Linked DNA regions of Homo sapiens: region 2 is linked to region 1. The links come from fine-mapping of genetic effects on gene expression. A gene starts in region 1. The other region holds a variant in brackets. All regions are shown on one strand. Distances are between the middles of the regions. Region 1 holds the start of GZF1 (GDNF inducible zinc finger protein 1). Region 2 overlaps NAPB (NSF attachment protein beta).

The links. PIP is the estimated chance that this variant, and not a neighbour inherited with it, causes the effect. A credible set is the group of variants that fine-mapping cannot tell apart.
Region 2: its variant is the best candidate, but not a certain one, in a credible set for the expression of GZF1 in whole blood (INTERVAL, PIP 0.50).

Annotation. Positions count from the first base shown.
Region 1 is chr20:23,359,445-23,364,820 of GRCh38, forward strand. It overlaps GZF1 (GDNF inducible zinc finger protein 1), which reads left to right and starts at 2,738. Exons shown (of 6, transcript NM_022482.5): 1 at 2,738-2,793; 2 at 4,919-5,376. The coding sequence starts at 4,940. RefSeq lists silencers at 2,024-2,113, 2,534-3,023 and enhancers at 2,204-2,463, 4,278-4,337.
Region 2 is chr20:23,401,321-23,406,696 of GRCh38, forward strand. NAPB (NSF attachment protein beta) reads right to left here. Exons shown (of 11, transcript NM_022080.3): 2 at 1,673-1,752. Among named protein-coding and RNA genes, the nearest start is that of NAPB, 17 kb to the right of the region's middle. The variant C/T (reference allele first, on the strand shown) is at 2,327.

The DNA.
Region 1 (5,376 bases):
ATTGTTTGAATATTGCTTATCTAGAGGCCAGTGCTTGTTTGGCTGCCAGAGAATAAAAACCTTGTGGCAGTTAAGGCATAGTTTCTTCTTGAAGTGTAGAGGTGCATGACAACCCTTGCCAGGCATGGCCCTTCATTCTTTATCATTTAGTATTGCCACAAAGAGTCTGTGAGTCTTATGACCTCTATTTTTAAAGCTATTAAGACACTCAACTAAAGCAATCCTTTCAGTATTGAATGGATAAGCTAGCATTATGTTATGCTAGCTAACATAATCGGAGACGGAGTCTCATTCTATTGCCCAGGCTGGAGTGCAATGGCATGATCGAAGCTCACTGCAACCTCCATCTCCTGGGTTCAAGTGATTCTCCTGCCTCAGCCTCCTGAGCATCTGGGATTACAAGTGCCTGTCACCACTCCCGGCTAATTTGGTTTTGTTTTTTTGAGACAGAGTTTTCCTCTGTTGCCCAGGCTGGAATGCAGTGGTGCAATCTCCGCTCACTGCAACCTCTGCCTCCCATGTTCAAGCGATTCTCCTGCCTCAGTCTCCTGAATAGCTGGGATTAAAGGCATGTACCACCTCGCCCAGCTAATTTTTGTATTATTAGCAGGGAAAGGGTTTCACCATGTTGTCCAGGCTGGTCTTGAACTCCTGACCTCAGGTGATCCGCCCACTTCAGCCTCCCAAAGTGCTAGAATTACAGGTGTGAGCCACCGCACCTGGCCTAATTTTTGTATTTTAGCAGAGACGGGGTTTCACCATGTTGGCCAGGCTGGTCTTCAACTCCTGACCTCAAGTGATCGGCCCGCCTCGGCCTCCCAAAGTGCTGGGATTACAGGCGTGAGCCACCGTGCCTGACCACCTTTTTGTAATGCAAAACAAAATCATAAAACACGATTCTGGGCCTGCTGGAGCCATGGGTGAAAACTGCGTTCATTCCAATTTCTTCAAATCATGGAATGCAAATATAGAGAGTCGGCCTAAGAAAGATTTCTGTCACTCATTCATTCTTCAAATATTTATTGAGCACCTACTATGTGTGGGAAGCTGGCTCCTGTTCAGGAAATATAATTAAAAGTACAATCTCCCAACCCTCTTCAGAAAGGTAGTGGAGAAAGAAAACACTTTGTAATTGAATAAGCATTAAACTAGAATGTGATACCCATCACAGGCAATCCATTAAGAGACTGCAAAGACAGAACGAAATCTCACTCTTTTGTGCAGCCAAGCAATCTATTACACACATTTTCAAGATAAACAATAACTAGCTCTCAAGGGAACTTGGCAGCATTTTTCATCACACACAGTTCATCTAACCTGATATTTGGGATGATCCTCTGTGTTAGCCAATTGGCTTTATCTAGAGGAAAAAGAAACTTGTATCTTTATGATATGAGATAATTTTGTAAGTTGGAGCAAAGGGCCCACTGAAGTTAGGCTCCTACTCCCCCATTAAAACTGGGAGACAGGGGCATTAACTCCCTTGATACTTAAAGAGATGGCTCCTAGGTCCTAGAAAAAGACATATCTAGGTTATAAAGCGCACAAAAAGGCCTAACTAGTCTTCAAAAGGATTTATATATTTCAAAGAGAGGAAAAAGTACTTACACTAATTACCAATTTTCTAAAAGTAAATGTTCGAAGAAAAAGGGAGGGAAATCTCATATTTTCAACAGGAAGTAGTAAACCTTATTTTAAATTTGTATTTGTCCTGACAGTCCCCAAACATTACAAACTCAACGTGTCGGTAAGACAAGGCTGAGTTAACTGCTGGCCACAGTAAGGGACAGCATGACCTGGCAAAGCTTTACCAATGGCTGGGAGCAAAAGGCAAGGTCAGTTTATTGAGAACTGGAAGTCTGACTCAAGGAAGGTGTTTCAAAGCGGGCTTTAGTTAGTATTGAGCAAGAATTGGTGGAAACAGCAAGATTTCGAGGAGTCAGCGAATCTTAGGGAATCAATTGTGCTTTCCCCGAAGAGTGGATGGGTCTCTGGGGAAGTTCTGTAGTGAACAAAGCTTTCGCCCGAATGGGAACTCCTGGAAATAAAGCCCTGCAGTAAAGACGGCAGGGTGCGGTCCCGGCTCCTGGCGCGCCGAGCCCCCCAGCAGGGCGGGGGCACCGCGGAAGAAGCGCCCCAGAGGAGAGCGCCGCGCCGAGCCCCGCCTGGCGCCAGTTCTCCAGCGCCCGTGGAGGCATCTGCGCCCCTAGTAGCCAAGGTGAGTACCAGCTCCAAGCCCGGCTTTCCGCGAGGTCCCTCGCGTGGCCACCGTGCCCTAAGGGTGCGCTCGGCCTCGGGGACGTGAGCAGCTCTTAGTGGGAAGCCAGCTGCAGGCCCTGACCGCAGGCTGCTGGGGCCCGGAAGCGCTGGCGCCTTGCGGCCAGAAGCCCGGAATGGACGCGAAAGTGACCACGCGAATCTGACGCTCACGTGACTTTTCGCGACTGGCCCCGCCCCCCTGTGGCGTGCCGCAGCGCAGACGTCGCTGTCTCCTGCGCAGGCGCAGGCCTTGGCTCGCGGCGGGTGACGCAATGCGGCGGGTGACGCAATCCGGCGTCGCCAGTCAGTCGCGCGGCCAGATCAGGTAACTGCCCGAACCGCTCCGCCGCCCGACGTGTGGCTCAGCCCCTTCCTCAGCCCCGCCAGGGGCGGGGCCGGCCGCGGGAGGGGAGGGGCCTGCAGCGACCAATCGGCGGTGCCCGCGCAGGGTGCTACGCCACGCCCAGCCGGGCCGGCCGTTCCTACCGGCCTGGTCCAGCGGACAGCGGCTGCAGCGGGGGCGCCGGCTGGGAGGTGAGTGCGCGGCCCGTAGGCCTGGCTCCGGCCCCTCGCCGCCCGCCGCCGCCTCTTTGTCCGCGCGCCCCGGCTGCTCTGTGGACCTGCGCGTCTCGGGGATGCGGGAGCGGGGGCAGGGGGCGGCCCGAGGGCCTGATCCACGCGGCCCCGGATGCCCGCGTCGGGAGGCGGCGCGTCGGGCCGAGGAGGGGCTTCTCTGTGGCTGCAGTAGTTTGTTCTCTGGGTCGTCTTTGGAGTGGCCGAGCGGCGTCCGGGCGCTGGGGCGGCCAAGTGGCGCGGGAAGGGTGGGAGGTGCCGTGAGGGCGGCGAGGACAGCGGCGGATTTAAGCCCCACTGGAAACCCCGGCCCTTGTGGCCGTGGACTGGGCTGCGGGTAGCAGCGTCTCCTGGAAGGGCTCTGGCCCCGTGAGCCTCGGGGATTCAGGGGCCGCCGACGTTGGTGCAGATGCCGGGCGCACTGGGAGGCGGCCGGAATGCCAATGAGATTCGGCGGATACGCAGCTGTCACCGGCCGCAGACTGCCCTGTCGCCACCTCCAGTGCCTGCACTCCAGTAGCCAAGCAACATAGGAAATCGCGCTCAGAACCCACTTTGTTGATTGAGAAATCAGGTCTCCTCGAGGGCCCTGTTGGCAGAGGTCTGGGGAAGTCAGGGCATCAGGCTGAGAGAGCCCTCTGCAGTCTTGTTTCCCCAGGCTGGGGCTGGGACCACTGAAACCCCAGTGGCTCTATAAGAGCCCCACTCTTATAGATCCCTTCCTTAGGCTTTGTCAGTGTTCTCACAGTTTTACTGGGGCGTCTCCTTCAGGCGACATTGATCAAGCCTCATAGGTACCTGTTTACAGCGGAACTCCCAGAGGGCAGTCTTTTCCATGTTTGAGGGACTGCTAGTTGTGGGGAGCGGTCTCATTGATGAGACTGGAGAAGGGGAGAGGGGTGGGACTAGTTTATCAGGGAAGATGATGACAACTTTTTTTCTAGACACGTTGAATCCGAGGTGACATCTGTGGTCTGGCCGAAGGAGGCTAGAAGGAAGGCATGTGCTTTGGATGGATGGAAACAGGAATCAAAGAGGAAGGTAGATTCAGGAGCTGAAGGGCAGGGAGAAAACACATTCAGGGAGTTTGTGGCAAAGCAGCAGAAATGACGATGGGGTGACGGTATCTGGAGGCCTTAGGTGGGGTTGGTGAAATTTGCATGCCCGCTGCAGTGGAAAGATTTAGGGGCTAAAGATAGCCCTTTGCCTTTGGCAAGGCTGAGGGGAAGAGTGTGTTGAGTAGTCTGAGTTGAATCCGGGCACCAGGCCCTGGCTCATGTCCCAACCAGCCATTGACTGTTACCTTGATAGGTCCTCATCTATGAAATGGGGATCACTGTAGCACCTTGGCCTATGTGTGGGAAACCAATAAACTAGCCAACAAGTTTCAGGCTCATGGAACCCTGGTAACAGCCGGTCAGCCTTCTTCAGAGGAGGAAATGGGTTCAGAGAAGTTGCTTGCTCAAAGTAGCACAGCTTGTAAAAGCTGTGGAACTTAACATTATTTCAGTAGAGTAACAATAATTCAAATTCTGAGGAGTTTAGGATGTTGGGAATGGGCGATGAATTGTGAACTACTTTTCCAAGAAGTTTTCCTCATGGAAAGTAGTTATTTAGTTGGTTCTTTTCAAAGGCAGAAATGATTCCCTGAGGTTTTGGATTTGCTCCCAGATGGTGGTGGCTATGTGTTTTAATTATCTGGTTTCCTGATCAGAGAACTAGACATTATTGTTGCCATGAATTCTTTTACAGTTTTGGGGACTATGTAAGCAAATTAGACAGTGACCTTGGTGAGCAAATTACTGTGTTAATGTATTTCACTAATCACAACTTCCATCATTTGTTTATCACTGGAGGAAACCTTAGAATACACTATTTTTCATGCCAATTTATTACCTTAGGAAAATGCATGAGGAACCTCACTTTAGAAAACTGCTAAGAAGTAAAATGTCATTCGAATCTTTACCTGAGTAAAGCTAGGTTGTTAATGAGTCTATATCCTCTCAAGTACTGAAGGAATCCTCATAAATTTTAGTCCTTTTGCATCAGTGGTTGCTCATGCATAATTCTTGTTTCTTTTTCAAAGCTGTTTTTGGAAGGAAGAAAGATGGAAAGCGGTGCAGTTCTGCTGGAATCCAAATCCTCCCCATTTAACCTACTGCATGAGATGCATGAGCTTCGCCTCCTGGGTCACCTGTGTGACGTGACAGTCAGCGTGGAGTATCAGGGTGTCCGCAAAGACTTCATGGCCCACAAGGCAGTGCTGGCTGCCACCAGCAAGTTTTTTAAGGAAGTGTTCCTTAATGAGAAGAGTGTGGATGGTACTAGGACTAATGTCTACTTAAATGAAGTGCAGGTTGCTGACTTTGCTTCATTTCTTGAGTTTGTCTACACTGCAAAGGTACAGGTGGAAGAAGATCGGGTGCAGCGAATGCTGGAAGTGGCTGAAAAGCTGAAATGTTTGGATTTATCAGAAACTTGTTTTCAATTAAAGAAACAGATGTTAGAGTCAGTACTTTTGGAGTTGCAAAATTTCTCAGAGTC
Region 2 (5,376 bases), 42 kb after region 1:
GGAGTTATTTATATCCTATCCTACTGCTCAAGGTCATCGCCAAGGTCTGATTTCCAAAATTCAAAAAATTGCAACCTCAGACATAAATGGAAACAGACTGGAAAAGTGCAGCAGTATGACAATGTCAGGAGGCTAGAGCATCACCCCAGGCAACAGATGACGCGGGGTGCACATACAAAGCCTCCTTAGTTACATACATGATCAGTGGCCTCTCTGAAATGGAATTTCCAAAGGTTAGAATACCTCATCACCAGATACAATAAGTAATAAGTGGTCTCAGCCGGGCACAGTGGTTCATGCCTATAATCCCAGCACTTTGGGAGGCCGAGGTGGGTGGATCGCCTGAGCTCAGGAGTTCCAGACCACCCTGGGCAACATGGTGAAACCCCGTCTCTACTAAAATACAAACAATTAGCTGGGCGTGGTGGCGCGTGCCTGTAGTCCCAGCTACGAGGGAGGCTGAGGCATAAGAATCGCTTGAGCCCCAGAGGCAGAGATTGCAGTCAGTCAAGATTGTACCACTGCACTCTAGCTTGGGCTGCAGAGTGAGACTCTGTCTCGAATAAATAAATAAATAAACAAATTAAGTAAGTAAATAAATAAGTAAGTAAGTGATCTCTTCAGGTAAGATCACTTTTTACTTATAAGACCTGAACAAAATAAAAGAGGGAATGTGAAACAAACTGTTTTCTCCACCATTTTAAAAATACAATATAATTCAGGCGTAGGTGTGTTTTGAAAAATAGCATATCTAAAGCCTTAGCTAAAACTAAACTTCTTACAAAGATCTTTAAAGCCAGAAGAGACCTTTTAGAATCATCTAGCTCAAAAGCATTTTCTCCTTTGAAATGATTTTAAAGTGTCTGCCTTGAAACAGCTTGTAGAGGGCGAGTCCCACTTCCAATCCCACAGCAGCTGTGAGCCAGAGCACAACACCCACGTCCCCTGCTCTGGTCAACGGTGGTCTCCATTTTCACTACAGAAATATCCCATCACTAAGGCATGAAAGATCTCTTTCGCTGAAGGGAGAGGGATGAATTTCTCTCAAAGAGCCATCCCATCTCAGACCAATGAAAATAATAATCCTGTGAATTTTGTTATGCCCGGTCTCACTGGGTAGAAAGCATTACTTTAAAAAATAACCAAGAGTCTATTGAGGTTAATGTAAATCCATCCCCCTCCCCCCAAACCCCACTTTCAGTTCTCAGTGGAATCACAATCAGTTATTGCGTAGCAGGGAATGGTCATTCTCAACCAATGTTCAGGTAAAGAAAATTCTCTTTATCCCACTAGTTTTAATGACTTTTATTCCAACTTTCATTCCTTATGGCACTGTGTTTATTTGAACATATTAGTAAGAAGCAAAGATTACTCTAATTCCAAGTAATTTTAACTATTTTAAGTTACCACATGCCTACTGTATTAAGAAGTTTATAGAAACTAAGACAGACACTGTCCCTGTGCTTAAACTTAAGCCAGGCTTTCCAGCTTCATTCACTTAGAGCACACCCCTTTAGTCTCCATATGTCAGTAGCAGCCACATCAGTTATTCAGCACTGACATCTGTCTCTGGGGCCAATAGTCTTGCTCTTCAAGGGGAAAACAGTCATTTCTCCCTTCAAAGTGATTTTAAACCATTTGCCTAAAAAGCAAACAAAAACTTTGTACATACCACTCCAATTTTTAGCCATCTTGAACATATTTGCAGCTCTGGTATACATTTCACAAGCCTCTTCTATTCTTGTGTTTCCTCTGAGAAAAAGTTAAAAATTAGATTTTTAACAACCATCCACATCTCTAATTCTCCCTCCCTCAAATGATTAACATTTAGTATATACTTGCTATGTGCCAGACAAGCATTACAGAATCTTAACCTCTATTTAAAGGAGATACTCTTACTATACCTGTTTTCCAGATGAGGAAACTGGGGTGTTAAGTGGTAAAGTAACTAGCCCGAGGTGACACAGAAAGGATAGCTCAGAATTAAGACTCAAACACAGGGCAGGGCATGATGGCTCATGCCTGTAATCCCAGAACTTTGGGAGGCCAAGGCGGGCGGATCACCTGAGGTCAGGTGTTCGAGACCAGCCTGGCCAACATGGTGAAACCCCATCCCTACTGAAAATACAAAAATTAGCTGGGTGTGGTGGCATGTGCCTGTAGTACCAGCTACTCAGGAGGCTGAGGTAGGAGAATTGCTTGAACCTGGGAGGCAGAGGTTGTAGTGAGCTGAGATCGTGCCATTGCACTCCAGCCTGGGCAACAAGAGCAAAACTATGTCTCAAAAAAAAAAAAGACTCAAACACAGATCTGGCTGACCCCAGAA[C/T]CAGAGGTGTTACAAACTGAAGATGTTATTCTGATTACATCTTTAATCAGAGTCCTTCCCATCTATAAAAGCTGGAAGTTTTATATCAGTCTGAGTAGTTAAAAGTACGTTTTTCAAAGGAGATTAAATTTTGAAGGATAAAGACATCTTTACCCTGTTATCTCCCAAGAGTTCAGCACTATGTTTATTCAGAAGCCACGTCTTATGAGAAAGTGGCACGACATTCTACAGCTGTATGATGTCAACTCTGGTAAGGGCAAGTCCTTCTCCAACCTGGAGGAAGCCTCAGGGTCCGGCCCAGTTTAGAAATGCATTTTGCAACACCCTGAGAAATGCATTTTACAACACCCTGAGAGAAGGGTACCTCCACTGTTGCTTGGACATATACAGTTCTGCAAAGTTCTTTACCAAGCAGCTGATTCCACTGAGGGACAGCTTTAAGCTACTTGGAAATTTCTTCTCACATAAAAGCCAAAATTATCCTCCGTAATCCTCCCAGAGTTAACTTTGCTTTTACTATGCTAAGGCCCCTCCATGAAAGACGTTTATCTATCTTGTCTATTTATAATCATAAAATAAACAGTGGAAAACTGAGATGCAGCAGACTCTGTACAGTATACATAACAAGGAACTCGGTGGGGTATGGACATAAGGACTCAGAGACAGGACAGGTCAAGGCTGACACTGGATGCTGGGCCTGGTATGAACACATGTACATGAAAGAGTGCACACACGTGTTAGGAACTCCATTAAACTCCAAGCTCCAGCAGAGGAGCTTGCAGCTCCCTGTCAACACAAGTCCTAGTGCAGAGCAGAGGCTGGGCATACAGCAAGGCTCAGGTGTGACTCAGACCTTAGGCAATAACTACTAACAGTATGGCCCTGGACCAGTTCTTTAACTCCTTCACACCTCAGTTTTGGCATGCGTAAACTGAAGATAATGTATACCTAGGAGTTATTATGAGGATCAAAAGAAATAATCCACATACAGCTGCCACTGCAGAGCTTCACCCAGAGCAGGTACTCAATCAGAATGGTTATCATATCTAGATCCATGTATGGAAGGCATAAAAACCTTTGGGAATATTACATTGTATGTCTCATGAGGAACATGTATCTAGAATAAATGCAAATCGAAACCACACATGTGATACCACATGGCTCCTGCTAGGATGGCTAGGATGGGCTACTGTCTGTCAAAAGACAAAAAATAACAAGAGTCAGGGAAGACGTGGAGAAACCTTATATATGTGGAGAAACCTTATATACGACTGGGAGGAATATAAAAGGGTGCAGCCACTTTGGAAAATGTTACCATATAACCCAGCAATTCCATTCCTAGGTACACACCCAAGAGAAATTAAAACACATCCCGGCGGGGCGAGGAGGCTCACGCCTGTAATCCCAGCACTTTGGGAGGCCGAGGCTGGAGGATCACCTGAGGTCAGGAGTTCAAGACCAGCCTGGACAACATGGCGAAACCCCATCTCCACTAAAAATACAAAAACAATTAGCCAGTGTGGTGGCACATGCCTGTAGTCCCAGCTACTTGAGGGACTGAGGTTACAGTAATCCGAGATCACACCACTGCACTCCAGCCCACCAGTCTAGGTGACAGAGCGAGACTTTGTCAAGAAGAAAAGAAAGAAAGAGAGAGAGACAGAGAAAGAGAGAGAGAGAGAAAGAAAGAAAGAGAATGAAAGAGAGAGATAAAGAAAGAGAGAAAACGCATATCCACACAAAAACTTGTATGCAACTGTTCACAGCAGCATTAATCATAATAGCTAAAAAGTGGCCAGGCACAGTGGCTCACGCCTGTAATCCCAGCGCTTTGGGAGGCTGAGGTGGGTGGATCACTTCAGGGCCAGGAGTTTGAGACCAGCCTGGCCAACTTGGTGAAACCTCCATCTCTAGTAAAAATACAAAAATTAGCTGGGCATGGTGGCGGGTGCCTGCAGTCCCAGCTACACAGGAGGCTGAGGCAGGAGAATCACTTGAACCTGGGAGGCGGAGGATGCACTGAGCCGAGATAGTGTCACTGCACTTCAGCCTGGGTGACACAGAGACTCCGTCTCAAAACAAAAAAAAAGCTAAGGAGTGGAAACAACCCAAAAGTCCATCAACCGATTAACAGATAAATAATATGTGGTATACACATACAATGGAATATTAATGCGCAATATGAGCAGTCACAGTGAGATTCCATTTATATGACAGGTCTACAGTAGGCAAATTTTTAGAGACAGAAAACAGGTTAGTGGTTGGTAGTGCTATGGTTTGAATGTTTTTGTCCCCTCCAAAACTAAATTAAAATTTAATCCCCAATGCAACAGTGTTGGGAGGTAGGGCCTACTGGGAGGTGTTTAGGTCATGAGCCCTCTGCTCTCATGAATGTATTAAGGCCACTAATAAAAGAGCTTGTGAAAGGGAGGTTCCATTTTCTCTGGTTCTCTTCTACCATGTGAAGACAAAGCAAGAAGGCCCTCACCAGATACCAGACGCTGGTGCCTTGATCTCAGACTTTCCAGCCCCCAAAAACTGTGAGAAATACATTTCTGTTCTTATACATTACCCAGGCTAAGGTTATTGTGTTACAGCAGCGCAAAGCAGGCAAAGACATCTAGAGGTGGGAGTGTTGGGGAAAAGCAGGGAGGTGAGGGAAAATGACAGCTAAATGGTACAGGGTTTCTTTCTGGGGTGATGAAGATGTTCTAAAACTGCTGTGGTTGCATAGCCCTGTGAATAGGCTAAAAACCTCTGAATTGTACATTTTAAATCAGTGAATTGTACGGTATGTGTATTAAATCTCAATAAAACCTCCTCCCCAACACACACAAAAAAAATCAAAAAAACAAACAAAAACCTTTGGGGACTATGTTACACAGTGAAAGATAGAATGGCAACAAGCCATACCAAAAATGAAGTGTCAGAATAAGCTACAGCTTTCTCTCACACCTTCATGTCCCTTTCCCTCCACTTCAAATCTACACATTAAAAAAAAAGAAAAACAGCTAATAAGTTTCCTAAATGGAAAATTCCTCACATGAAAA